Linked DNA regions of Homo sapiens. The protein of the gene in region 3 purifies or fractionates together with the protein of the main gene of each other region. This does not show direct contact. Each region holds a gene or a part of one and is shown on either strand. Other genes may lie near its edges. The genes, in order: EPC1, MBTD1, PLAC1 and EPC2.

The links.
Region 1: the proteins of PLAC1 (region 3) and EPC1 purify together in Homo sapiens (affinity purification with mass spectrometry; 3 studies listed by BioGRID and IntAct, with this or other methods). This does not show direct contact.
Region 2: the proteins of PLAC1 (region 3) and MBTD1 purify together in Homo sapiens (affinity purification with mass spectrometry; 3 studies listed by BioGRID and IntAct, with this or other methods). This does not show direct contact.
Region 4: the proteins of PLAC1 (region 3) and EPC2 purify together in Homo sapiens (affinity purification with mass spectrometry; 3 studies listed by BioGRID and IntAct, with this or other methods). This does not show direct contact.

What each region holds. Positions count from the first base shown.
Region 1 is NC_000010.11:32,281,155-32,288,181, reverse strand, and holds part of EPC1 (enhancer of polycomb homolog 1), read left to right. Parts: intron 1-907; coding exon 908-1,084; intron 1,085-1,166; coding exon 1,167-1,256; intron 1,257-1,339; coding exon 1,340-1,488; intron 1,489-3,131; coding exon 3,132-3,484; coding exon of another isoform or gene 3,485-3,597; exon of another isoform or gene 3,598-4,061; intron 4,062-7,027. UniProt on the Homo sapiens protein: Component of the NuA4 histone acetyltransferase (HAT) complex, a multiprotein complex involved in transcriptional activation of select genes principally by acetylation of nucleosomal histones H4 and H2A.
Region 2 is NC_000017.11:51,250,031-51,257,057, forward strand, and holds part of MBTD1 (MBT domain-containing protein 1), read right to left. Parts: intron 1-7,027. UniProt on the Homo sapiens protein: Chromatin reader component of the NuA4 histone acetyltransferase complex, a multiprotein complex involved in transcriptional activation of select genes principally by acetylation of nucleosomal histones H4 and H2A.
Region 3 is NC_000023.11:134,655,453-134,662,876, reverse strand, and holds the start of PLAC1 (placenta-specific protein 1 precursor), read left to right. Parts: upstream 1-4,405; 5' UTR 4,406-4,549; intron 4,550-7,424. UniProt on the Homo sapiens protein: May play a role in placental development.
Region 4 is NC_000002.12:148,640,575-148,647,769, forward strand, and holds the start of EPC2 (enhancer of polycomb homolog 2), read left to right. Parts: upstream 1-4,176; 5' UTR 4,177-4,443; coding exon 4,444-4,596; intron 4,597-7,195. UniProt on the Homo sapiens protein: May play a role in transcription or DNA repair.

The DNA.
Region 1 (7,027 bases), on a different chromosome or scaffold from region 3:
AAATTGTGGAGAGATGCCTTATGGTTTGGGAAAACCGTAGTTTTCCCAAAAAACCATAATGTCATAAACTACATAAAATGTAACATGAATATTTAGCGTATTTACATAACCGTGGTATTTGCCGTGATCTTTTTCTTTCCAACAAATACAATTTTTGCCACTACTTTACCTTACCTATTGCCTACGTATCAAATTCATACTTCTCCCAACCTTTGCCATCATCTGCAATACATGTTTCGAACATGCTGTGTTCCATCAGCTCAGTTACTGTTGCCTGTATATTTTATCCTGCATTTCCCCTATTTAATGATTTCATATCTTTATCCTTTAAAACTGTTCAAAAGTCACCATTTCAGAAAGCTTACATTGTTCAGCCCACAAATCCTTACTACTCTTTATTTGTATAACCCCTCACTCAGCATTATGGCTTTGTTTTCTACTATGTTAACAGTTTTCTGTAGTTTGCTTTCTGTGTATACGAAGACATTTTCATTATTATTTGTCCTATATTTATTATTTGTTGAGAATAAGGATTAGACAATCCCCTTTAAAAAAAAATTCTCTTCTAGAATTTTCATAGAAAATTAAGAAAATGGGAGGAGCCAGCAGTAAATACACTAATTGCAGTTGTAAGACTTCAGAAGTTGGAGAACTTCTGTTCTCTCCTTTTAATTGAAACAGAATCATTTGTGTGATTATGTTTAGATTGTAGGACAAATTTATGCTTTCATGGAGGCCAACTTCTCTAGACTTTACACTATAAGATGGCCAAACATAGAGTGTTGTGTCTCTTATGAATATGAATGCCCTCATTATAGCAATAAACTTCTTTTTAAAATTTCCCCCAAAACTGCAAATTTGTTGAACATGGTTTCTGGTGTATAATTAATTCATGTCTTTGTTGCAGCAAGATAAAGCCGATCTTATCCGACCGAAACGGAAATATGAAAAGAAGCCCAAAGTCTTACCATCGTCTGCCGCTGCTACTCCCCAACAGACGAGTCCTGCTGCACTGCCAGTCTTCAATGCTAAAGATCTGAATCAGTATGACTTTCCCAGCTCAGACGAAGAACCTCTCTCCCAGGTACAAATACAATTCTCTATGAACATTGAGGAGGGATGTAGGAAGTCACGTATCTGACCTACTTTCTTTATTTCATTTAAAGGTTTTGTCTGGCTCTTCGGAAGCTGAGGAAGACAATGATCCTGATGGTCCTTTTGCTTTCCGTAGGAAAGCAGGCTGTCAGTACTATGCTGTAAGTTTCAGAGTGTCTTTGTAAATAACAAACTATTTACCTTTAACTGACAAAATTAAATAATTTGGATTTTTTTTTTTAAGCCTCACTTAGACCAAACTGGCAACTGGCCTTGGACTAGTCCTAAAGATGGAGGATTAGGGGATGTGCGATATAGATACTGCTTAACTACTCTCACCGTACCCCAAAGGTGTATTGGATTTGCACGAAGACGGGTTGGGCGCGGTGGAAGGTAAGGTATTTCTGTATTCCTAGCAGAAGGATATTTTAGGCATTAGGGTGATTGAATCTAACTTTTAAAGTCAGGTAATCCCTCTGAACAACTCATTAGTTCCTATTTGCTATTCTTAACTGATCTGTTGACTAAAATATTTTTGTTGCTGTGCTGCCTGGTTCTTACACATCCATAGTTTTTGACATAACTCTATTGGGTCCCTAGTGGACCTGCTTTTCTCCCCAAGGTGGAAAACCTCAGATAAATTATCAAGGGGTAGAATTGTGAGAAAGGGCAACAGATGAAGACAAGTGTAAATCCTGATTGCACACAGTGTATTAAGTTAAAGAAACTGCAAAAAAGTTGTTTCACACTAGCTAGTATAATGGGTTTAACCTGACAGTGAAAAGGATCCATGCATAACCTGATCTTGACATCCCAGTTTGTTAGGATCTAATTGTTCTTCCTTTGTTTAAACCTTGTAGAATTCCTTCCTTCATACTCTAAATGCCTTTATGCGAGTTGCTTGTATGGGGACAGGAAACAAATAGCAAAACACATAAACTCAAGGAATGGAGAGACGTTAATGTATAATGTGCGGGGAAAATTAAAAGGGAAAGCAAATAATAGTATCAAGGTGCTTTTTCAGGAAGAAACCCAAGCGTATATTTATGATAAACTAATGGCTTATACATATATTTTTTTCATCTTCAACTCTTAATTGCAGAGGGTTTTTTTTTATTATTTAAACATTGGTTAAGAATTATCTAGGCACTAAAATACATTTTATTTAGTCCGTTTTTTTCCATCACTGCTGACATCAGGAGCAGTGAAAATTCTCTACGTTAGCTATATTTTATTCTATTACTAACATTAATCAATGTTATTATTTTGACTTGGAGCCATTTATAATGTTTATATAAATAACATAAGAGGCCAGGCATGGTGGCTCACACCTGTAATCCCAGCACTTTGGGAGGCCAAGGTGGGTGGATCACTTGAGGTCAAGAGTTTGAGACCAGCCTGGCCAACATGGGGAAACACTGTCTCCACTAAAAACACAAAAATTAGCTGGGCATGGTGGCAGGCGCCTGTAATCTCAGCTACTCGGGAGGCTGAGGCAGGAGAATCACTTGAACCCTGGGGCGGAGGTTGCAGTGAGCCAAGATCGCACCATTGCACTCCAGTCTGGGTGACAGAGTAAAACTCCATCTCTCTCAATCAATCAGTCAATCAATCAATAACATAAGAATATATCCTCTAGAGTAGTGGATCTCAAATATTTTGTCTATAAGAAATGTTAATGGTATACTATGTTTTTTGTTGCTTTTCTTCTCTCTTCTCCCTTTCCCCCCAAAAGGAATGAAGTTTTTGCTTAAATATAGAATAAATGTGTTCGCAACATTTTATAAAGCATTCATTTTGGTGCTTTGTAATGGAAGTGAAAATCTTTAGTTGAAAAACAATTTGTTAAAAGAACTTTTATTAGAAATTGAGGTTGTAGCCTATAAAAACCAAACACTAAAATAATCAACTTTAAAGCTTTTAAATATTCAGTATGAGTTGGCCTTTTGGCAGTTGGGGGTAAAAAGAAAAAGCTTTAATATATAATCTTTGAATAGCTATTTTAAATAACTGTTTCTTGTCTGATTTTTTAATAGGGTCTTACTGGACAGAGCTCATTCAGACTATGACAGTGTGTTTCACCATCTGGATTTGGAAATGCTTTCCTCACCACAACATTCTCCAGTCAATCAGTTTGCCAATACCTCAGAAACAAATACCTCGGACAAATCTTTCTCTAAAGACCTCAGTCAGATACTAGTCAATATCAAATCATGTAGATGGCGGCATTTTAGGCCTCGGACACCATCCCTACATGACAGTGACAATGATGAACTCTCCTGTAGAAAATTATATAGGAGTATAAACCGAACAGGAACAGCACAACCTGGGACCCAGACATGCAGTACCTCTACGCAAAGTAAAAGTAGCAGTGGTTCAGCACACTTTGGTATGTTGACTGTTAATGATGTACGTTTCTATAGAAATGTCAGGTCCAACCATTTCCCATTTGTTCGACTATGTGGTCTGTTACATTTATGGCTTAAAGTCCTTTTCTCTTAAACAGTTAAAAAAAAAATCTTGGTCTAAGTATTTATTTGAATCCTGTTGCTATAGGAGTTTGTATGTGTGTGTCTTCATTTAAACATACCTGCATACAAAGATGGTTTATTTCTATTTAATATGTGACATTTGTTTCCTGGATATAGTCCGTGAACCACAAGATTTATCATATTTTTCAATAATATGAGAAGAAAATGGGCCGTAAATTGTTAACCATTTTATGTTCAGATATTTCTCTAGTTTTTACCTAGTTTGCTTTAACATAGAGACCAGCAAGTGAATATATATGCATAACCTTATATGTTGACACAATAATTCAGAATAATTTGTTAAAGATAAACTAATTTTTCAGAGAAGAACATTTAAAGGGTTAATATTTTTGAAACGTTTTCAGATAATATCTATTTGATTATTGTGGCTTCTATTTGAAATGTGTCTAAAATAAATGCTGTTTATTTAAAATATTCCTATAATCTTAGCTGTCTGTTTTAAAGCATAAGTTTGTGTTATTTGAAGCCTATATATTGTAGAAATTCACCATTGAATTATGTTACTACTGATTTTTGTAAAGGTAATCTGAGGACTATGAAGATATTTATCATTCCCCTAATTCACCCTGTAGGGTTATAGTTAAGTTGCTTCATAAATATGAACATTTGCTCTGATTCTTAAAGACCTCCAGAAAATGTTCCGTAAACTAATTTACTTGGTGGTTAAAAAAAAGTACAGTTGACCCCTGAACAACATGAGGGTTAGGGGCACCCCCCAATTGCAGTCCAAAATTCATGTATAACTTTTGACTCCCCAAAAACTTGACTAATAGTCTGCTCCTGACCAGAATTACCAATAACATAAACAGTCCATTAGTCCATTAACATAAACAGTCCAAACATACATGTTTTGTATGTTATATGTATTCTGTACTTCATTCTTAAAATAAGCTAGGAAAAAGAACATGTTATTAAGAAATTTATAGAGCCAGGCATGGTGGCTCATGCCTGTAATCCCAGCACTTTGGGAGGCTAAAGTGGGCAGATTGCTTGAGCCCAGGAGTTCAGGACCAGCCTGGGCAACATGGTGAAACCTCATCTCTACAAAAAATGCAGAAATTCACTGGGTGTGGTGGTGAGCGCCTGTAGTCTCAGCTACTCAGGAGACTGAGGTGGTAGGAGCCCAGAAGGTCAAGGCTGCAGTGAGCCAAGATCATGCCACTGCATTCCAGGCTTCACAGCAAAGCAAAACCCTGTTTCAAAAAAAAAAGAAATTCATAAAGGAGAGAAAATACATTTACTAATCATTAAGTGTAAGTGGATCATCATAAAGGTCTTTATCCTTGTCATCTTCACATTGAGGGGGAGGAGGGGTTGGTCTTGTCATCTGAGAGGTGACAGAGGCAGAAGATAATTTACAAATAAGTAGACCCAGGCAGTTCAAACCCATGTTATTCAAGGGTCAGCTGTACTTCTATGAAATGGAAGTCTTTCAGCTCATGAGAAAAATAATCACAATTCAGAAATCAGCTGGAAGATAAAGCTATTTTAGGGACTAACAGCTTATTTATAATCCCATTAATGTTACTGTCTTTATCACCAAAAGCCAGTTTCTCTCTACTTTTATAGTCTTAAGAATCAAAATAAAGAACTTTTCAATAAAGACTTACTTATAGTGTTAGTATAGAGGTTTTAACAGTATAAACCTGTCATAGGTTACCCTGATAATTAAGCTTTCTAAGCTGTAAAAATTCTTTAAGACTTCTCAGAAAATAGGCATGTTCCATCAATCTCCATCTTCTCCACCCCTTAAATAGAGAAGTTGAAGTGTATAACTATCCTAAATATTTAAGGATTTTATAATGCTCTTTTTTTATGAAAAATGTTTTGCTATACTGCTTTAGGCATATTAATAACAGTTGTAAAAATTGTTTGATTTGTGTTTGCCCAAAGAACATTAAAAGATGAGCATTACCAAAAGCTTAGCTGAAAAGAAATCATTAGTAACCTTGTAATTTTTCTTCTTTATCATTTCTTTCCTCCATATATGCGATACAACTATTTATTTATTTATTTAAGACAGGATCTTTCTCTGTCACCCAGACTGGAGTATAGTGGCACAGTCATGGCTCACTGCAGCCTCAACTTCCCAGGCTCAGTGATCCCCCAACCTCAGCCTCCTGGGTAGCTAGGACTGCAGGCGTATGCCACCATGACTGGCTAATTTTTTGTAAGAGATAGGGTCTATGTTGCCCAGGCTAGTCTTGAACTCCTGGCCTCAAGTGATCCTCCTGCCTTGGCCTCCCAAAGTGCTAGGGTTACAGGGGTGAGCCACTGCACCCAGCCTCAATACTACTTTTTAAAAATGAGTTTATCTATTTTTTTTCCTGTTGTCTTAATTATTTTCAATTTCTCCTTAAATTTTGCTAGATCTTCTAATACTTAGAGGATAGATACCTACAGACTACTGTAGGGTAACACTGTTCATTTATATTTGTGAATATTCCAGAGACCTAAAGCTTTTCTCTGCATACTTTATAAAGTATATTACAATGCAGCCATATCATAAGTGCATTTCACTTAATCCAACTCCAGGCCCCTGAAGAAAAAAAAAACAAAATTTAGGCCAAGTGTGGTGGCTCATGCCTGTAATCCCAGTACTTTGGGAGGCCGAGGCGGGCAGATCACCTGAGGTCAGGAGTTCCACACTAGCCTGGCTAATATGGCGAAACCTGGTCTCTACTAAAAAATACAAAAATTAGCTGGGCATGATGGCAGGCGCCTGTAATCCCAGCTACTCAGGAAGCTGAGGCAGGGAGAATGGCTTGAACCTGGGAGTCAGAGGTTGCAGTGAGCCGAGATTGTGCCATTGCATTCCAGCCTGGGCGACAGAGTGAGACTCCATCTCAAAAAAAAAAAAGAGAAAATGTAGCAGCTCAAATGTTATACAGAATTCTAAATACAATTTACTGAAAGAATATATTCTCCAGAGTGAGCCTGGAGTAGGGGAAGTTGAATGTGTTGGTCCTCTTACGGCGTGAGTGCCCGCATTGCCACTTTATTCATAGGTTAAGCATCTTACCTCATTCAGTAGTAATTGTGATTTTAAAGATAATTTTTAATTTTCATACAGCATGGCCCCCACATACAAACCAGACTACTTCCTCTGGCACTTAACCAAAGAAACTCTGATGTAGTCTGATGCCAGCAGAAAAACTGGCAGTGTTGGGCTAATTAAAACAGAAGAGTCAGGCCAGGCACAGTGGGTCATGCCTGTAATCCCAGCACTTTGGGAGGCCGAGGCAGGCAGATTGCCTGAGATCACCTCAGATCAGGAGTTCAAGACCAGCCTGGCCAACATGGCAAAACACGTTTCTATTAAAAATACAAAAATTAGCCAGACGTGGTGGTGGGTGCCTGTAATTCCTGCTACTCGGGAG
Region 2 (7,027 bases), on a different chromosome or scaffold from region 3:
ACTACAGGCATGAGCCACCATGCCTGGCTAATTAAACACTTTTTTTTTTTTTTTTGTAGAGACTGGGTCTCACTATGTTGCCCAGGCTGGTCTAGAAGTCCTGGGCTCAAGTAATCCACCCACCTAAGCCTCCCAAAGTGCTGGGATTACAGGTGTGAGCCACCACACATGGCCTTAGTTTTTCCTTTTATTTTCCATCCCATTATATTTTAGTTGCATTCTTTCTGCTTTGTCAGAATGTATAATGTTTATGTACTATTCTCTAGGTCCCTACTATTGGTTTTAATCTTAGTTCAAAAAGATATCTGAAATACTTATTGTCACAGTCTTTTTGTAGGAAATGTCCCAAATATCTTTTAGATGAAAGTCATCCTTTTCGAGTGTCCTCAGGAGGGGTAAACGAGTACAGTATTCCCTGAGTTCCTGCATGTTCAAACTGTTGTTCTGCAGCCCTAATACCTGGACAACAGTTAGCTGGATATAAAATCCTTGGCTAGCAGTCACTTTCCTCATGCTGCTCCACTGTCTTGCTTTGTTATGTTGCTTTTGAGAAATCTGACACTGGTCTAATTCTCTTGCCTCTATGTCACGTCTTTGCCTGGAGACCCTGAGAATTCTTTGCATCTTTACAGTCATACAGCTTTACTAGGAAATATCTTTGAGTGTGCCTTCTGGTATGAACTTCTGTGGTATAGATTCAGATCTCTTTTCACTTCCAGAAAGTTTTCTTGGATTATAGTTTTAAATATTTTCTCTTCTTGAAGGACACCAATTATATACAGTAGACTTTGGATCCATCTCCCATTTCAACTTGGTCAATTTTCAAAACAAAAATCTCATCTCAATTATCCTGTTTTCCTGCTTTTCTTCAAGACTTTTTATTAAATTTGAATTTGAAATGTGGGAATGTTAAAACTTCATTATTGGTTATGATTTTATCTTCTATTTTTCTGTTTAATCTACTTTGTGTTCATTTCTTAATGCTTTTTGTTCTTTGTATTTGTTTCAGAATATTTCTTAATTTTATTTTTCAAATCTCCAAACATTGGTTTGAGGATGTTTAATTTCACTTGGAGCATTGTGTCAATTTTTTCCTGCTTTTTTTGATGGGGGTAGATTTTCATCAGTTGAAATGCTGATTCACATTTCCTGTTTGTTTTTTCTTACAGTTCTGTATGGATGTGGCCTGCTCTTTTCTATTTCTGTTCATTTCATAGGCAGAGCTCCTACTTCAAGAACACCCTCTTCTCTAAGTTCAGTTTTTTTCTTTTCCTGAAGAATTTTTTCTTCTTTCTTCTTCTTCACTGCCATGTTTCCAAGTCTTCACTGACATGTCTCCAAGTCTTCATGTTTCCCTTATGAGGCAATGCTTATAATTTAAAGCTACCAATTCTGGTACTGCTTACCTTTAAGCTCTTCTCCATACATAGAGCTGTGAACTATCAAACTCCAAACCTATGATCAATGTTTTGGAGCTTTTTTCAGATTTTCTCTTTCTGAGAGTGGATCTTTGTACCTTGTCTAAAGCTTTCACACTCCCATACCTCTTTCAGTAAATTTGTCAAGCCTTCCCTCTCTCACTCTTAACACCTAGAGGAATGATCATAAGGAGCAGTTGGAATTTGGTTTATTTCTCTACCTATAAGAATCTACAAATCTCTATTTATAGGCAGAGAAATAAACTAAATTTGTGAGTTGAACTCTTAAACACATTTCGTCCTATAGGAGTTTATTTGTAAATTCTACAATAACCTAATATTGGACTTGCTCTGTCATTCAAGCTGCAGTGCAGTGGCATGATCTTGGCTTATTGTAACCTCTGCCTCCCAGGTTCAAGCGATTCTCATGCCTCAGTCTCCCGAGAAGCTGGGATTACAGTGTGTGCCACAACACCTGGGTAATTTTTGTATTTTTGGTAGAGACAGGGTTTCGCCATGTTGGCCAGGCTGATCTCGAACTCCTGGCCTCAAGTGATTGGCCCACTTCGGCCTCCCAAAGTGTTGGGATTACAGGCATGAGCCACTGCACCCAACCATGTTGGACTATTTTTGTTACTGATCTGATTTGGTTATTATTATAATATTTGTAATATGCTTAGTATGTGTCAGGCATATTCAGCACTTAAATCTGTAGCAGCGCATTTAAACCTTATGAGTGTCACTCTCATTTTACAGGAGGAAGCAGTGGCCCAAATAGGCTAAGCAACTTGCCCAAGATCATATAACCACCATGAACACTAATAATATGAATCATGGGACTATCTTAAAACGTTTTAAATTTTAACCTTCTTTCTCCCCCCTCCCCAATACTGGTTCTGTCAGCTAGCCTCTGTAAGCATACAAAACAAGCATCAAATAAATATGTTTCAGGTAACGTGCCTTCATGAACATTTTGCTCTTCAAAATAAAACCGAGGCCAGGTGCAGTGGCTCACACCTGTAATCCTAGCACTTTGGGAGACCAAGGGTGGGTGGATTACTTGAGGAGTAATCCACCAGGAGTTCCAGACCAGCCTGGCCAATATGGTAAAACCCCATCTCTACTAAAAATACAAAAATCAGCCATGTGTGGTGGTGGCACCTGTAGTCCAGCTACCAGGGAGGCTGAGGCAGAAGAATCACTTGAACCCGGGAGGCGAAGGTTGCAGAGAGCCAAGATTGAGCTACTGCACTCCAGTCTGGGCGACAGAGTGAGACTCTGTCTCAAAAAAAAACAAAACAACAAAACAAAACCCCAAAAAACTGCAAATCATATTAGATGACTAAGGTCTTGAATGTAGGGAGATGGAATGATTGTAGGTAGGTAAACCTTGCTTTATATTTGGGTGTATGTTCTAACTCCCTGTCCACTATAAAGTCACTAATGTCTAAAATTCATATACTAAATAAATAATATAAGCCTAAGCTTTAGAATTAGAGAGATAGATACTAGATGAGAAAGCTAAAAGAATGAAAGCAGTTGTCTCATCAGAGCTGAATTGGGACAAGGACCATTTTTTTTGGAATACTTTTAGCATTGTTTAATTATTGTACTATCAAGTGCATGTATTACTTTGATAAAAATAAAAGCTAATTTATATGAAGTATACAGTACATTAAAAAATTAAGTTGGTATATATTGAGAGATTGATGATATCTGGTATCAGTAAATACATGTGGGAAAAACAGTGCTCATATACACTTGGTAGGAAGGTAACCTTACACTATCTTTCCGGAAGGCAATTTGACATTACATATGAAAACTTAAAATGGCTATGCCTTTTGACTAGGTAATTCCATTTTTAGGAATCTGTCCTTCAGAAATACTCATACATAATACATACAAGGACACAAGAACCTATGTAGAAGGATGTTTGCTAATGTAATAATAATGAAAAACTGGAGACAAACTTACAATCAGCAGGGGAATCATGAGCAACAGGTAAAATACTGAGTGGAAAAAATAAATCACAATATATAGTATAATAAAATATATCACAATATGACTCACTTTTTATTCAAAGAGACAATATACACTGGCATATACACAGATCAATATATGTATGTTTGTTTTTATGTGCACTAAGAAAGACCTTAGGAGTAGCTAAACTTTTAGCAGGGTAGAAGTGGCATGGGAAGATGAATCTAACTTTTCAATATTTTTCTTTTTTAAAACATTATAGGTGTACTTCTATAATAAAAAATAAAAGGTTTTTATAGTGACAAAATTAAAGAAGAGATCACAAATCACAACAGAACTTCATTGTCCTACTGTAACTGTCACTTAGGTAAACCATCCTCCCTATGAAATCTACAAGGGAATTAAAAAGCATAGTCATTAACTTATTGGTATAACCAAACAAAAGTTCCAACAAAACTAAACATCTCTGGGAGAAATGACAGAAAACACTTGAAATCTTAAATGCAGGTGTCAATAAACATGGAGCCAAGTAATATTAATAATAGTGTAATTTCAATATGAGTAAACTCACCAGATATGAATAAACTCATCAGAAGTCAACCAATTCTTCATTATCCAAACCCACTGGGAGCAGTGGCTCACATAATTTTCAAATTTTTATATTTAGCTATGGAGCAAATATTTTCTAGAATCTTAAATTTGAATGTTGTATGCATGAGATCACAAAGTAGTAAACAGAGATTAATACATACTCTACAATGACTGAACTTGGTAGGAGCTCAAGAGCTATTTAGCTCCTGCAGGCCTCTTTTTCATTCTATTATACTATGAGGATGAAAGCACATTCTGGTATAGTGATAAAACTCATCAGTGTAAAGAGAAATGCCTTCTTTCTTTCTAAGCTTACTGTTACGAGGAACATAAATGGTAAGGATTTGGGATTACTGAGTTTTTATTTCCCACAAATTCAATGTGCAAGCAAGAATAAATTCATGTCAATGATACAATCAAGAGGAAACCAAAAGCAATAATATTCTGAATAACCCATCTAAAGAAATGGAAAAGTACCCAGGAGAATGATAGGAGAGGACAATATTCTACATAGCAATATTTTAAGATTTAAAGCAACAGTGAACAAAAGGAAGTGATTCTTTGATCTACAAGAAATACAAATTTCTACCTCTTTGGGTTCAACTTCTAGACCTATCACTGTTATGACTTCGGATGTAACAATTACTTGGGTCTCAGTTTCCCTCTCTTCTAAATAAGAAAAACATCACTTACCACACAGGAAGGATGTATGATAAAATAAAAAAATTCACATGAATAGGCTTTCAGTTCTTCCGAAGAAAGCTATGAATCCTTAAGTACAAACCTGGAAAGCTAATTAAAAATAAGATGACCATATCAAAATTAAGTCTGAAACATGCAGTGGCCTAGAGATTCCCTGAGATCATTATCAGCTATCAATTCTACCCCAATAATAGAATTCATACTCAAGCTGGGTCTGTAGGGCGAATGTGGTCTGAATGATCAAACAAGATCATTTATTAGTATGTTAACATAGAGACGGGCCAGGCGCAGTGGCTCACGCCTGTAATCCCAGCACTTTGGGAGGCTGAGGCGGGCAGATCACAAGGTCAGGAGTTTGACACCAGCCTGGCCAATATGATGAAACCCCACCTCTACTAAAAATACAAAAATGAACTGGGTGTGGTGGCATTTGCCTGTAGTCCCAGCCACTCGGGAGGCTGAGGCAGAAGAATCACTTGAACCCGGGAGGCGGAGACTGCAGTGAGCCGAGCTCATGCCACTGCACTCCAGCCTGGGCAACAGAGCAAGACTCCATCTCAAAAAAAAAAAGAAAAGAGAAAGTAAATTCAACAGCTTATTCAGTATCATATTGATCTGATATAACCTAAAAACACTTGATCTGAAATGATAACATTCTCTTGGTGTTTACCTTTAAAAAATATATTTGGAACTGGTTGCTCAGAAGATATAAAATCACTGAACAATAGTAACTACAGGGTGTTAATAATTAAACAAAGATGGGTTAAACACATACAGATACACAAGGGGGCTACTTCTCTGGTGTATAAAATAATCTCTAGCAAATTTTAAAGCTTAGAAGTCTTAAAGTAATAGATGATGATAACCTTTTTTTTTTCCTTTTTTTTTTTTTGAGACGGAGTCTCACTCTGTCGCCCAGGCTGGAGTCCAGTGGCACAATCATGGCTCACTTCAACCTGGGTCTCCCACCAGACTCAAGCAATCCTCCCACCTCTGCCCCCGAGTAGCTGGGACTACAGGGGTGTGCCACCACACCTAATTTTTGTAATTTTTTTTTGTAGAGACAGGGTTTCGCCATGTTGCCCAGGCTGATCTTGAACTCCTGGGTTCAAGCAATCTGCCTGTCCTGGGCTCTCAAAGTATTGGGATTACAGGCGTTAGCCAACACACCTGGTTAATATTAACCAATATTTATTGAACGATATATACAAATCACTATGCTTAGCACCAGAAATACAAAGAAGTATTAGACTTAACATTCCTGTCCTACAATTAAGACTGCAAACGGTGGCCAAATAATTGGGCCACAACGTTGAACAAACTAATGAGTATTATATACAACCAGTTTTAAAAGACTAGTAGTAGGAATTAAACATAGTGAAAAAGGAAAAAGAAGGAAAGCCTGGGAACACATCTTAACATTTTATCTTATGACTTGTCTCATCTTTTATAGCAGCTTACTTTTTTTAAACAGCGGGCATAACATCTGAGTGGAGGTTTACAGAAACTACAGGAGGCAGGGCTGATGTTCACCCTGTATTTCAGATGAGGAAAGTGAAGCTTTCAAAGAGGTTACACAACTCACCTAAGATCGCAGTTCAGAGAGGTAGCTTGCTGACTTTGTCCAGAGCTCACTTCTACTAGACTAAATTCTAAATTATCAGTGCTAAAGTGAGAACTCGAAGGGACCTCAGAAATCTCCTAATGGAGTGTTTCCCTAACCAACCTGATAAACTTTCTGGGGTATACATTAAAAACACATTCCCAGGACCCACTGCAGACCTACTAAATAAGTTATAGGAGAGAAGTTTAGTATTTTAACAAGAGCCTCCAAGAAGTGATTATAATGATTAGTTATGCTTAGAAAACAGTGTTCTATGTGTGTATGTCCAGTATGCCAGACATTTGGCTACTTAAATTTACATTGCCTAAAACAGCAAAATTAAAAATTGAGTTCTTCAATTTTTAGTTCCACTAGTTACATTTCAAGTGCTCAACAACCACATGTGGCTAGTGGCTACCGTAACTGGACAGCAAAGATATAGGAAATTTCCATCATTGCAGAAACTTCTATTGGATTATGCTGATACTAGACTAACCCTTCAACTGCCATGAGAAAATGGAGGCACAGGATCTTGTCCAACAAGGGCCATGGAGCTACTCAATGGCAGAATTGTGACATCAACCTCACTGCCAGCACCCCTCTTATTGTATCACTTCATCCTATCTCATATTCAGGGTTTGTTCAAATGGGAATTATTTCCTTTTCACCTTTTATTGTGGGTTCCAGCAAAGCAAGAAGAGAAATCCTAAATTTGCAGGTAAAAAAATCCTTA
Region 3 (7,424 bases):
GCTCATTGCAAACTCTGCCTCCCAAGTTCAAGCAATTCTCCTGCCTCAGCCTCCCAAGTAGTTGGGACTACAGTCGTGCACCACTATGCCTGGATACTTTTTATTATTTTGTAGAGATGAGGTTTTATCATGTTGAGCAGGCTAGTCTCGAACTCCTGGGCTCGAGCAATCCACCTGCTTCAGCTTCCCAAAGTGCTGAGATTACAGGCATGAGCCACTGCGCCTGGCTAAGCATTTCAGGCTTTGTAGCCACATAGTCATTTTTTTTACAACCCTTTAAAAATGTAAAAATCATCCTTTGCTTGTGGGCTACACAAAAACAGACTGTGGGGAAAGTTCTCAACTCTTGGTCAAGACAATCAACACAACAATAGATTAAGCACTGCTTTGTAGCATTTGCTAGTTTCCCTGACATAAATAGTCCTACCATGGCCAACTTCAGGCTACACAACTTGATGTCACAGAATGTGGAGTTGGGAAGAGATGTCCAGTGGCAGAACATTATATAGTATTTCCAGTATACTGATATAAAAGATATAAGTAACCTCAAGAGCATGGATAATAGCAAAGTGTAGTCAAATAATTAGAAAGGGATGAGTTTCGCATATGTATTAGCTTTGTGGGTTTTTTTGGTTTTGTTTTTTGAGACAGGGTCTCATTCTGTCACCCAGGCTGGAGTGCAGTGGCATGATCATAGCTCACTGCAGCCTTGACCTCCTGGGCTCAAACGATCCTCCTGCCTCAGCTGGGACCACAGGTGTGTGGCACCACACCCAGCTAATTTTTTAAAAATTATGTTTTGTAGAGATATGGTCTCCCTATGTTGCCCAGGCTGGTCTGGAACTCCTCAGCTTGAGTGATCCTCCCACCTCAGCCTCCTAAAGTGTTGGGATTACAGGCATGAGCCACCACACCTAGCCAAGCTTTGTTTTTCATATAATTTATTTTATTGCAAGGTTATATAATTTAATTTCTAATAATGGCTGAATTTAACAACTCAGCTCTCAAAATTAATTTGTCTCTTGTAAGTTGGTATGAGCACACCATTGTGACCATAACAAATTTCAACCTGTCTTTTTTTGTTGGGGAGTAGGTAAAAAGAGAATCTTCACTCAATTTGGTCCATTATTCCTTGTAACAAAAGAATTTACTACAGGGTTTCTTTGAAGCTGGGAGTTTCCCTGGCTCTTCTAAAATAGGAAATGATTTTAGATGTTATTTTTACGTATTTTCAAAAAGAGGTCTGTCTCTATTCTCAACTGCTTCCTGACCACCTTTTGCTTCCAAATAATGAAAACTATTTAAAGGAAAAAGGAACTACTGTAGTGTGGTTTTAAGAAAAGCACATACTTTGCTCTTTCAGAAGTAGTTACACAATACTTCTGCCCATAAACTGGGGAAGAGTTAAAATAGCTTTCCAAGGCTCCTCCCAGGGCTGTGATTTTCCTCTCATCTGCTCAGGTAATGCCACTCATGGTGCTCATTCATTTATTCAGCTATTTGAGCATCTACCAACTGCCCGCCAGTGTGCTGAGCCCCAGGGACACAGCAGAACGCGAGAGAGACATGGCCCCTGCTGAATAAGTAATTACGCAGATCATTATTTACTTATACTTTACATTAGTACCTTAAAGGAGAGCATATAACATAGCGGCCTGATCTATTCTGGGAGATTCAGGATGTGGCATTTAACCTGACACCTGAAGAATGAGTAGAAAGCCATGCCAAGGAAGAGGCAAAAAGAAGTAGAACACCCTTCCTTCCAGGTGATGGGGACATCCTATAGGATGCTTGCCCAAAGCACAGGTACACATACAATACATACACAGATACACAGCATCTCTTTGGTATTAAAATTTAATGGGGGGAGAAATTAGAAAAAAAAAAGACGTCTAAAAAGGCTCCTGGGATGAAGGGGATGATAATTTTTTTAAAACAACATTGAGAAACATTGGTTTATATAAACAACTTGGTGCTCTTGAGCTATTATCACAGCAGTGGCAGAGCTAAGAGGCTGACTCCTCTCATGAGGACTAGCTACAGACCTGCAGGCTCCAGAGGCTGATACTAAGACAGGAAGTTAGAGGACTCATGGTTTCCCACAACTCCAGAAAATATCCTCTGTTATCTTTCAAATACTGCCTCTTCTCATTCTCTCTCTTCCCTCCTTCTGGAACTCCAACTGGACACTTACTGGAACTTCTCATTCTGTCCTCCATGTAGCTTAGCTTTCCTTTCTTATTTTTCATCTCTTTATTCCTCTGCTCTGCATCTGGATAATTTCCTCAGCTCTATCTTCTGGTTCACTCATTCTCTCATCAACTGTGTTTAGTTTGTTGTTTAATCCCTCTGTTGAGTGTTCTTTTTTCCATTGCAATGCCTATATTTCGGTTCTTTTTTGCATTCACCTGTATTTTTCAAACTATTCTATTCTTGCCTTCTAGTTTCTATTCCTTTTTAAAACCTCTTTCGGCCAGGCATGGTGGCTCACGCCTGTAATCCCAGCACTTTGGGAGGCTGAGGCGGGTGGATCACCCGAGGTCAGGAGTTCAAGACCAGCCTGGCCAACATGATGAAATCCTATCTCTACTAAAAAATACAAAAATTAGCTGGGCATGATGGCAGGCACCTGTAATCCCAGCTACTCAGGAGGCTGAGGCAGAAGAATCGCTTGAACCCAGGAGGCGGAGGTTGCAGTGAGCTGAGATCGCACCATTGCACTCCAGCCTGGGTGATAGAGCAATACTCTGTCTCAAAAAAAAAAAAAAAATCTTTGAACATTTTCAGCATACTTATTTTAAAATCCCTTTTAGATTTTCTTATTAGCTGTGGTTCTTAAGGTATGAATTCTTCCATTGGTTGCACTGGTCTTATGGTGGTTTATTTCCTCACGGACTTAGTAAGTTCTAGCTATGCATTCATCCTGAGTCATAGATACAAACACAGATTCATGTGCTATATACCACCTGGGTTTGAATTCTGGCTCTGCCACTTAGTACCTGTGTGACCTTAGGTAAGTTATTTAATCTCTCTGTTCTTCAGTTTCAGTATCTGGAAATCAGGGCTGTTCTACAAATGAGTTATTAGGTTGGTGGAAAATGATTGCAGTTTTTGCCACTAATTTCAACGGCAAAAACCGCAATTACTTTTGCATCAACCTAAATAATATAAGCCAAGCACTTAGGACAGCATCTGGCACATAATTAAGCACTTGGCTAGTGTAATTACTGTTATTTGGCAGGAATTGTTTTACCTTGGAGTCTTATGTACTTTGGGTTATGTGACTGCCTACTCTCAGCTCAAAGTGGCCAGTACACTTCTGAACTGTGTTTTTTCCCCCATCCCCACTTATGGGCCAGCACTTACCACTACTGACTTTCCATAGGAGCTCAGATTCCACTCCCGTTCCCACCCTGCCATTCAAACCCTTCGCCCAGGATATGTGACCACCTTTGGTTCTTCTGTGGGCTGTGTAGTTGCTGCTGTGGCTTTGAGCTCCCTCTTCATTTCTGGCACTAGAATATGTTTATTTTTGCTTTTGCTCTCTACAACATATTTAAATTTTTGAAAAAACAATGTGTTTTGAGCAGGGGAGGAGCTTCCTGCAACAGCTCAGGCAACCATACTGACCAGTAATCCCTAAAAATTCTTTCTTTTTTTTTTAAATTTTAAGTTCCGGGGTACATGTGCAGGATGTGCAGGTTTGTTATGTAAGTAAACATGTGCCATGGTGGTTTGCTGCATCGATCAACCCATCACCTACATATTAAGCCCAGCATGCATCAGCTATTTTTCCTGATGCTTTCCACCCGCCACAGCCCCCCAAGAGGCCACAGTGTGTGTTTTCCCCTCCCTGGGTCCATGTGTTCTCATTCTCCCTGAGCATTCTTCCTGAAGAGGCTTACCTCTCATTTGGCAGTGGGCTCCTTGAGAGAACTGGGGACAAAGGCTGGATTCCTGGTGGGAAGGGACATATATTATTTGTTTTTGTATTCCCTATGCCTGATATGTGTTTACTGAGTAAAGACACGAAAGACTGCCTTGGCAACAGCAAGCACTACAAGTGGCCAGCTCACTGCTTGATTTCTCTAAGAATTACCACCACCATGTTGTAACCCTCCTCCCCGCCCTTCTTCCTGTGAATGAGTTCTGTCAAGGTGACATGGCTTCTAACACATGACAGTAGGTATCATTCAATCACTGATGATCTCAAGGGTGAGTAGCTTTCTTTTACTCTGTAAACAAAATGCCAAACTGGGAAATGCTGCAGAGGCCACATATTATTCTGACTTTCAGAGTGTTGTTTCGAAAGCACCAGAGTAAAATGTTAAGCAGGTAGCTGATGCAATCTGGCAAAGTCAGTATATAGCTCTATTTATATAAAGACACACACATATATCAGACCATCAGAAGGATTTGTATAAAGAGTGACTCTCCTATGAAGGTAAAGGCCACCCCTCTTCAGTTCCAGTGACTGAGATACATTTTTCCAATCCTGGGGGCAAATACAGACACAGCAAGTTCCTTCTTCCCTTTGGAAATTTGGCAGGTAAGTCAAGTCTGTCTCTGTTGCCACATTCTCTCGAGATTTTATGACTGTGCACATGGCCTGTGTGAAAGCTTCGCTTAGGTCACCTTATGCCTTGGCAGCCAGCATGGTGTATGACGATTCAGGAAGACCCTGGTGTTTCCCAGATGGGGCCAGATCTGGCCATGCAATTATTGCCCTCCAGCTGGGAAATGTGACATGGGGGTGATGAAGTGGCTGCTGAGAAGGAGGCAGTTAGACTCTGAATTTGGTCTGTTCTTTATTTAAATCTAAAGATTGAACACACACACACATAGATCTAAAATCAATATCATACATTCACACACACACACACTCACACATGCACCACTCCCCAACTGCACAGGGTATTTTTTAGGGATTCATGTGGGATTCCCCTACACATATTTCCCAGTCTAACTGCCTATTCTTTCCCCTGTTTACTTGCCATCTCATCATTCTCTCTTCCTTTACTCTCCTACTTATCTTTATCATTGCTTTTAGCTGTGTGTTCCTATTAACCCAGATGATCAGTTTCAGACTCTTTGAGAAAGAGACAGGGACCCTAAATCCATTGTGAGCTGCTTTGTCTCATTCTCTCCCATGACCACAGAGAGGCATGTCTCTGGACCTTGATTCTGAGAGGAAACAGATTCACAGAAACTACACCACCACTGGTAGCACAATGTTACTCTCAGGGTGGACATTCTCATTTATAAAAAGAGTAGTAGAATAAATTGCATTCTAATCCCAGCAGCTCTAATAACTTGTCCTTCTTTCTATCAATATACTGATCACTGTTACTACAGAGGCAGCAGGGAACAAATATGGGCTCTGTATTTAAACAAACTTGGGTTCAAGTTCCAGCTTCAGCAGTTAATAGCTGAGTGACACTGGGCAAGTTGCTTATCCTCTCTGATCTTCTGTTTCTTTATCTGCTTAATTGGCATCAAATAGAATATACAGACAGTCCCCAACTTGCAATGGTTTGGCTTGCAATTTTTTGACATTATGACGGGCTTATTAGGGTACTGAATGCATTTTTGATTTATGATATTTTTGATTTGTGATGGTTTTATCGGGACATAGCCCCATCATAAGTCAAGGAGCATCCGTATGTTCAAGGTGCTGGATACATAATTGGTGCTCTATAAATAGGTGGAATTACTATGATTATTTGGATGATGGTCGCAACCCTTGGTCCTTCCTGTCTCACTGGAGTTAGAGACAATCAGAGTTAAAGGAGGACTCTAAAGATGAACAAAGCATCTTCTCACGGTCAAGTGACAGCTCGGAGCTGCTGGATGCTCAGCATAGCACTAGCTCTCTAACAGGCTCTAGGAGAAACAATGGGTAGATCTACTCCTGCTCTCAAGGGGCCCTGGCCATCCAAATGAGCAGATAAGATGAAAATGTCTACAAATGTTAAAAAAGAAAAAAAAAAGGCTGGGCATGGTGGTTCATTTCTGTAATCCCAACACTTCGGGAAGCTGAGGCAGGAGGATTACTTAAGCCCAGGAGTTCAAGACCAGCCTGAGCAATGTAGGGAGACACCGTCTCTACAAAAACTAAAAATAAAATATCCAGGCTTGGTGGGGCACACCTGTGGTCCTAGCTACTCAGGAGGCTGAGATGGGAGGATCACTTGAGCCCAGGAGATCGAAGCTGCAGTGAGCCATCATCACTCCACTGCACTCCAGCCTGGGGGACAGAGCACAACCGCATCTCAAAAAAGAAAAGAAAAAAAGAGGAAAATGTAAATATGAGTGGGCAATAAGACTAGTATCTGCTAAATTCTTCCCTATAGACCACAAGTGCTATGGAAATTCAGAGAGGGGGTGCTGCTGTGAATAAGAAGTCCTCCTGGAGGAGGCAAGGCTTCAGCTGAGACTTAAAGAAAGGATGAGGCTTGGAGTGACCCCTAGAAAAGGTGGGAGCTCTGTGGGCAAATGCTGGTCAAACTTGAGAGGTAGGCACAACTGTTATTTCCAATTTACAGATAAGAAAATGGAAGGCCAGATAAGCCTAGTGACTTCTCTAAGGCCACTCAGCAAGTAATGGCAGCACTAGGATTTAGGTAGAGATCGGTCTCTGTCTGGTGTTGAAGGCTACATTCAAAGCTGGCTCTGACTGAAGAAAGATGAGAAATAGGAAATAGCCATTGATGGTTTTCCAGATAGGAGTGACGTAGAAAAGGCAGTGTGTTTTCTATATTCACAGTGCAGCAGGTGTTCAGGGGACGATTCTGGCACTAGAGGGGTCAATTAGGAGGCAGTTGCAATACTTTAGGGCTGAGGTATTGAAGGCCTGATCCAGGGTAGGGGCATGGTGGGACTAGAGAAGGCATTAAGCCATTAGGCATGTCAAAGGGCAAATTCACAGACTTGGGAACTGGCTGAATAAGGAGAAAGAAGGACAGCGGGATGATTAAAGAATCTGATATGGGAACCAGAAGACTGGGCAATGCTGCTACTAGGCATATTGGGATAGCATACTCATTTTAAGGTTGCTGTTTATATAAAACAGAGCCTGGTTTCTTTTATTATTATTGCTATTAAATCTTTTTATTTTTTTAAAAACACACATACCATAAGAAAACAGACAAATTCAGAATATGAGATATTCTACAAGACAACTAGCCTGAACTCTTCAAAAATTCAGTGTCACACACAAAAATTAGGAGCATGCACTGTTCTAGATTAAACGACACTAAAGGGACATAAGTAGATGCAATACACAAACCTTGGTTTTGGATTCTGGATTTTACAAAGCTATGAAAGACATTTGGGGAATATTGGGGCAATTTGAATATGGATTGGAAATTAGATTATATTAGGAATTATTGTTTATTTTCTTAGCTGTGATAATATATTGTGGT
Region 4 (7,195 bases), on a different chromosome or scaffold from region 3:
AAAAAAAAAGAAAGAAAAAAAAAATCCTGAAATTACATCTACATAGCTTGCTTGCTGTTTGGACACACATAACTGTCCAAGTCAGATTTGTTAGCTTCATCACAAGAGCTTTACTTATTTCTCTTATCCCCATCCAAAAGCCTGAGTGAGCAGCGTCAATCTATTCCAAATGTGGAGCACTGGTTGTGTTTTACGGTCCGGGTGGGGCAACAAATGAGACAGGCTGTCAGTGCAATTCAAAATTGGGTGTTGTGGACCCTCTGGAGCTGTGTGTTTTCAAATCTGTTTCTTTTTTTTTTAGTTACCAAAATGCAGAGCTTTCAGGCTGATTATTTTGGAGTCTATTTGGATCCTTTGTGGAGCTGGGAAGTAAATCGTCAGCTTATACACAAGGTGGCACCCTGTGATTCCAACCAGGTCTGAGAGGAGCGATGCTGCTAAGAAACTGAGCCACAGTCACAAATTTTTATTTACCATCTGCTATTCCCACGGTGGCAAATGCAGAGGTAGAAGTAGATGTTTGGCAGGTCACCTCTCAGTGTAGTCTCTGTCCCTATGTCTCAAAGATGCAGAGCTGCCTCAGAAAAGGGCACTGGAACCACAGAACTGATTCCAGTTGATTGTAATGAATGCAGACCCCACATTCAGATTACATATGGAAAACAACGAAGCTTTATTAGTACTAGGCTCATTCCTGGGAACATAAGGGGGAGGGGTGGAGATGCAGTTCACATACTAACCCAATTAACTTTCAAATGGTTTTGCTGAAACCAGGAGCCAATTAGAAAGAACGTGACATTTGCAAAACTCTGAAATAGTTGAATAGCAACTGTGTTTACTAGTTTTAAGATTCCTTTCAAAAAGTAATTTGTCCATTATTTGGAAGCTGCCTGCCTTGATTATAGTACTGGGAGATGGACACTGGAATGTAATCCTAATTCTAACAGTTATTTGACATTTATTCTAATTTAGACTACATTTAGACAGTGATTTTATTTTGATATGGCTTTAAACTGGTTTTAATTCTTGGGTGCTTATATATTATGCTTGCTGGGCTAAATGCATGTCATTTGGAATTGGTCTAGAGCATATCTGAAGTGGACTGATTTTAGAATGACTATACTTAGCGCATTGTATGTGGAAATTAAAATAGGCTATTAGGCTGCACACCCATTTGAGGCAGGTCTTGATAAAAATATTTCATGAGAGAATTTTTTATTTTATAAGAAGATATTTTTTGCTTTTAGCACTAACAATTATATGAGTATTCAACAAATCAATCAGAAATAAACTTTATGAAAAGTAATATTTATATACAAATAAAAGTTACTTTCCAAAAGTGAACAGTGGCATTCCGGTTTGGGCACTGAATTGGAAGCCAAGAAAACACAGGCTGTGTCTCCGTTGAAAAGTATATTGTGTTATTTGCCTTAAATGGTTTTATTCCCAGCTCTATAATCATTGCCTACAGGGTGAGAAGAAAATGGAGATTTGGGGAAGAAATCTTTTACATGGTCAAAGTAAAAGAACAACAAAGAAACAACCACAACAGCAAAAATCCCTTCCTATAAATTCCAGGTTTCAAAAAGGTGTTTTTGAATAACATTAATTGGTTCTAAAATCTCTATGCACAAAGGTACAAAGCTGGACAACAGGGTAGGCCACAGTAAGAACAAATATTGGCAGCAATAGCTAGGTCAGGTGACAGGCCAGTGAGGTATGTGAACTATAAACTAGAGTGGCATGGGGTCAGTATCAGTGAATTTCTTCATGGAATATCAGTCAACAAATATACTTTAGATGCCTGCCATATGTGAGGCATGGAACTGGGGATACAGTGATTGACAGACAGATGTTGTTCCTGCCCTCCTTGGTCTACTGCAACTTTAGGCTCTGGCTTATGCGCTCCCTTGGCCGTTGGTTGGAAGGTCTTAGTAACTAATTTTGAATTAGCAGCTTTAGAATGCTGACTGGTCAATAAGCTGAAGAGCTTGGATAGCAGGGTAGCACCACTGAGAAAACCAGAGTTTTGGAGTCAGGTCAGACCTGAATTTGAGCCCAGTTCTGCAAGTTGTTGGAATTGAAATTTGGCAAATTATCTGATGCTCAGTTTTCTTATTGGTAAAATTATATTTTTTCATAAAATTATAATAAGAATTAAGTGGAATTCAACTAGTTGAGATAATATATATAACATGTTACTACAATGGATGGTATATTACACATACTTGATATTTCCTTTTCTGAGAGAAACAGTAAAACTAAACATAGGGACTAGAAGAAAGCTATCCTTTCTGAACCTGAGGAGGGCTGGGCATCCAGATGAAAGCTCTGGATGACTCATTTCTTCAACTATTGCTTTTTTCTTCCCTTTCAGGCTTGAACCCAGTGCTGACCCCCTCCCAAGAACTTCTTGTTCTTGCTTCCAGAGGATTGGAACTGTTCCAGGGGTAGCACTTAGAGAGCAGGACATGCCCATAAGCTTGAGGAAGGTACTGCTTACAAGAAATGAGTCACAGCAACTCCATTGCTTCCAACAACAAAGTGGATGAAAAACACTCAAGCCCCACTAAACAATACTCGGAGTTTTGCTGCGACAGACTGGTTAGACTATTTGGACACTACCATGAAGACTATATCCACCATTCTGCCTTCAAAGGAGGAGACTGCAGAGAGAAAAGGGGAAGAGGAACAGGAGGAAAAAGGGGGAGGGGAGGAAGTGGAGGAGGGGAAGAAGGACGTAATAGAGGAAGAGATATAGTTTTATTGTCACATAGAAATGACAGTAGGAATCAATTTTTTCACTGTTGGTCTTTAGGAAATCATCTGACTTTCTCTGAGTTAGAGTATGATCGATTATTAGAAAATGGTAAAATGTGTTAAAAACTCTCTTTGTACGGTTTTGTGAGAAATGTGTAATGCTTAAAGACTAACCAAGAGCCTCTTGGCTAAACCAGGTTGATGTCAACAATAGCTAGTACTTATTTGAGTCACCTTGATTTTCCCTCCTCTTGAGAACTTTCTCTAACCAGTTTAGGCTGCAGTCATGCCTCCTTTCCTTTCTCTGAACTCTCACAATTATTGCCTAGATCTCGTTTGGTAATTAATCATGTGCTACTTACTGCCTGTGTCATCTCTTGTATTGTTTTCTTAAAATATTTACACTTTTTTTTCGGTTGTCACTTATCTTTCCAGCTGTCATTTTCTTCAACTATTTACGTCTCTGTTACTCATCTTTCCAGCCATCCTGGCATCCCATTAAGGTGAAAGCTCTCTGAGGCAGGAACCTTTTCTCAGATTTCTTCGAGTCTTCCACAGCACCCCACATTTGACACACATCTGCTACTTCGCAAATGTGTGCTGCCTTGGCTAAATTTTTAGAAGCTGAACTTTTAGGAAAGCTACTATTTTTGAACTCAGAAAAATACCTACCATCCACTAAACAGCTGTACCGAAGTTTGGGTGACAGGGAACCTAAGTTCACTTGTTGCATCTGGCAGCCTCAAACCATGAACCCTCACTGCAAAGCGAGGATGAACGCGCTGCTGCACCTTGGAGAGCTCTTTCGGACAGGTACGGAGGGGAGGGCGTAGAAGAGGGCTGGCACCAGCAGCGCGGTCCAGTCCTCCGAACGGACTGATGGGACTGATGGGAGAGACCTCTTGCACCTCTCGGGGATGTGCGCCTCGGAGGATGCGAATTAGCTTGCGCACAGGGCGCCTTGGGGATAGCGCTGTCCAAGTACAGGCTTGGGTGATGGCTGGTGGGGTCCGGGTCGACATTTTCCCTTCCCGCTCCCGGACTTCTGCACACACGCGCTGCTCGGCGCAGCCGTCTTTGCCCGGCGCCTTCCTCCGGGACACCCAGCGAGAGGGGTGACCGGGCGGCGGCGGGAGAGGCGCACGCTCCCGGGCGCGGGCGAACTTGCGCACCTGGCACCTGCCACACAGCGAAAGCACCGGCCAGCGAGCGGAGGGGCGCCGCCCCCGCCCCCTCTCCCCGGAGCGGACCGAGACCGAGCACGCTCCCGCGGGCCGGCAGCGCCGCGGAGAGAGTGGGTGGGCAGGCGAGGGAGGGGAAGGGAGAGGAAGGAGGGAGGGAGGGAGAGGGCGAGGCGCGTTCCCGCGACGGGGGCGCGCTCTCGCGCGGGCTGCCGGGATCGCTCGCCGCCGCTGTGGTAATGTCCGCCATGTTGGCCATGGCGCAGGGAGCGGATCGGGCGGGCGAGCGGCGGATCTAGTGTGTGGAGGCGGCCGCGGGCGCGGGGGGCTGTTTTCGGGCGGGGTGGGCGCCCATGCTGTGGCCGGGGGCAGTGAGGAGGAGGAGGAGCGGGCCGGCCGCGCTGCACTGAGGAAGGAGGTGGAGGAGGCGGCGGGAGTCCTCCCCCCCTCCCCGCCCGCCCCGCCGCCGCCGCCCGGGCTGTTCCTGTAAGGCGGGGAGACAATGAGTAAACTCTCCTTCCGAGCGCGGGCGCTGGACGCCGCCAAGCCGCTGCCTATCTACCGCGGCAAGGACATGCCTGATCTCAACGACTGCGTCTCCATCAACCGGGCCGTGCCCCAGATGCCCACCGGGATGGAGAAGGAGGAGGAATCGGTAGGGACTCGAGTGTTTATTACCCCCCCTTCCCTCCTCCCCCCTCCCCTTTGTCAGTCGGGCCTCGCCATTCACAGAGCGCTTTACGCTCGCTGGAGGGCGCCGCTGCCGCTCTAACGCACGGGACTCTACGCCGGCGGAGTAGCGTAAACCCTCTCGGCCGGCGTAGCGCCCGCCCGCGGCCGCCATGTTGTTGCGTCCCAGTGTTGTGATTAGCTCGCAGCGCTGCTTACGCTGCCGTAAGGGGGCCTTGCCGTAAGCGGCGGCCGGGAATGGCGCAGGGGATGCGCTGGCCGCTCTTGGCGTACGGTCTCTGTTTACCTTTCCACCTCCCTCTCTCAGGCGCGGGGCTAATTAATGGCGTGGTATTATTTGGCTAGGCAAGATTATTATTTTTTCCACTTTTAACTTTGGCTTTGTATTGAGTTCTCTTTGAAATGACTGTGGAAGGGTGCTTTCAAAACAAACATCTTCCTCCCAGCAATGTAATCATCCTGGCTCCCCCGCCCGCGAAGGTGCAGCGGGATGAGGCGGTGCAGCACTGCGGCGGGGGAGGGCGGGGGCCACGACTACCGAGCGGGTCGTAGCGTCCGAGGGCCGCCCGCCGGCCAGTTCTGCCGACCCGAGCCGGGCGCGGGGCGGACGGGCTCTGCCTGCTCCGCCTGGACGGCCGTGCTCCGTGCGCAACGTTAGAGAGGAGCCGGGGATGCCCGGAAGCGAGCCGCCGGCGTTGCGTTGTCCTCGAGAATTGTCATTGCGAGGTGGTCCTTAGAAGTTGAGGACCTAGTGCATCTAAATTGGCAGTTGTAATTTTGATAATACAGCACCTTTTGGGAAAATTGCTGCTTTTCCTCCGATGGGTTAAATTTTGCAGACGGTTGGATTTCATCTGGCTTGACAGAGAGTGTTTATGACTCGAGTGGTGTTACTTGCGTGCGAAGTTCATAGTAACTGCACCCTCAAGAATTTCTTCAATGAACCTACAGTCCCGCCTTATTGTCAACCTCGGGTGTGTGTGGATTGGTTCTCTTGCTTCAGTGACTGTCAAAAGGAAGCTCGAGGTTTCAGTGATTGGTTTTCTCTTTTGACTATTAATATTGCAGGAAATGCTTTTATGCCTTCGATTGGCTGGTTGAGTTCTGACCTCATTATGTTACCCTGTTAATACTACTTTGCTCTTATTTAATCACATTTCTCTTTGATGTATAGTTACTTGAAAGTCTTACATTTTCAGTAGAAAATGCATATGGCCGTAGCATCGGGATGAACTTAACTGTGTGTGTACACACACAAATATGTAATAGATATATATACACGCACATACACATATATATTTGTGTGTGCATATATATAAATATGTTTATAATCAAAACCCAGCATTTATCCCTAAGGTTTAGAGCTGTGAGAACTTTTTTTTTTGTATGTGAGAACTTTTTTTTTTAATTTGTTTCTAACGACTCAGTTTTCCATGGGAAGGAAAATTAAAATAAAATCATATTATATACAATAGTTAATTACATTGAACCCTAATAAGCACAACTTTGGATATTTTTGCTATTTTGTGGGTCTTGATCCAAAGAAAGATGGCCTTAAAAGTACCAGTATTGTGTGTAATTACTTTGATCCTATTATTTTAGAACTTGAGTCAAATCTGTTCTAGGCCGGGCACGGTGGGTCACGCCTGTAATCCCAGCACTTTGGAAGGCCGAGGTGGGCGGATCATGAGGTCAGGAGTTCGAGACCAGCCTGGCCAGTATGGTGAAACTCCGTCTCCACTAAAAATACAAAAATTAGCCGGGCCTGGTGGTGCGCGCCTGTAATACCAGCTACTCGGGAGGCTGAGGCAGAAGAATTGCTTGAACCCGGGAGAAAGAGGTTGCAGTGAGCAGAGATCGTGCCACTGCACTCCAGCCTGGGGGACAGAGCGAGACTCCGTCCCCCCCAACAACAAAAAAAAGGAAATCTGTTCTAGAGTGAACAGTTAACTCCTGGAAGGTATATTACTTTTTGCAATCACCAACATACGTGGTCCTTAGTATGCCACATATGTTTTGGTATTTTAATTTAGTAAGATAACTTAGAGTAATTTTTTCATGCTTCATTAAAAATAAAAGTGCTTAACTCGTGTTGCAATTTTTTGTTTATTTGTTTTTTGAGATGGAGTTTAGCTCTTGTCGCCCAGGCTTGATTGCAATGGCGCGATCTCGGCTCACTGCAACCTCCGCCTACCAGGTTCAGGTGATTTTCCTGCCTCAGCCTCCCGAGCAGCTGAGATTATAGGCGCCCACTACCTCGCCCAGCTAATTTTTGTATTTTTAGTAGAGTCGGGGTTTCACCATATTGGCCAGGCTGGTCTCAGACTCCTGACCTCAGGTGATCACCCGCCTCGGCCTCCCAAATTTCTGGGATTACAGGTGTGAGCCACTGCGCCTGGCCGCGCCTTGCAGACTTTTTTTTTTTTTTTTTTTTTTTTTTTAATTTATTACCGAGTCTAGCTCTGTCGCCAGGCTGGAGTGCAGTGGCGCGATCTCAGCTCACTGCAACCTTCGCCTCCCGGGTTCAAGTGATTCTCCTGCCTCAGCCTCTCAAGTAGTTGGGA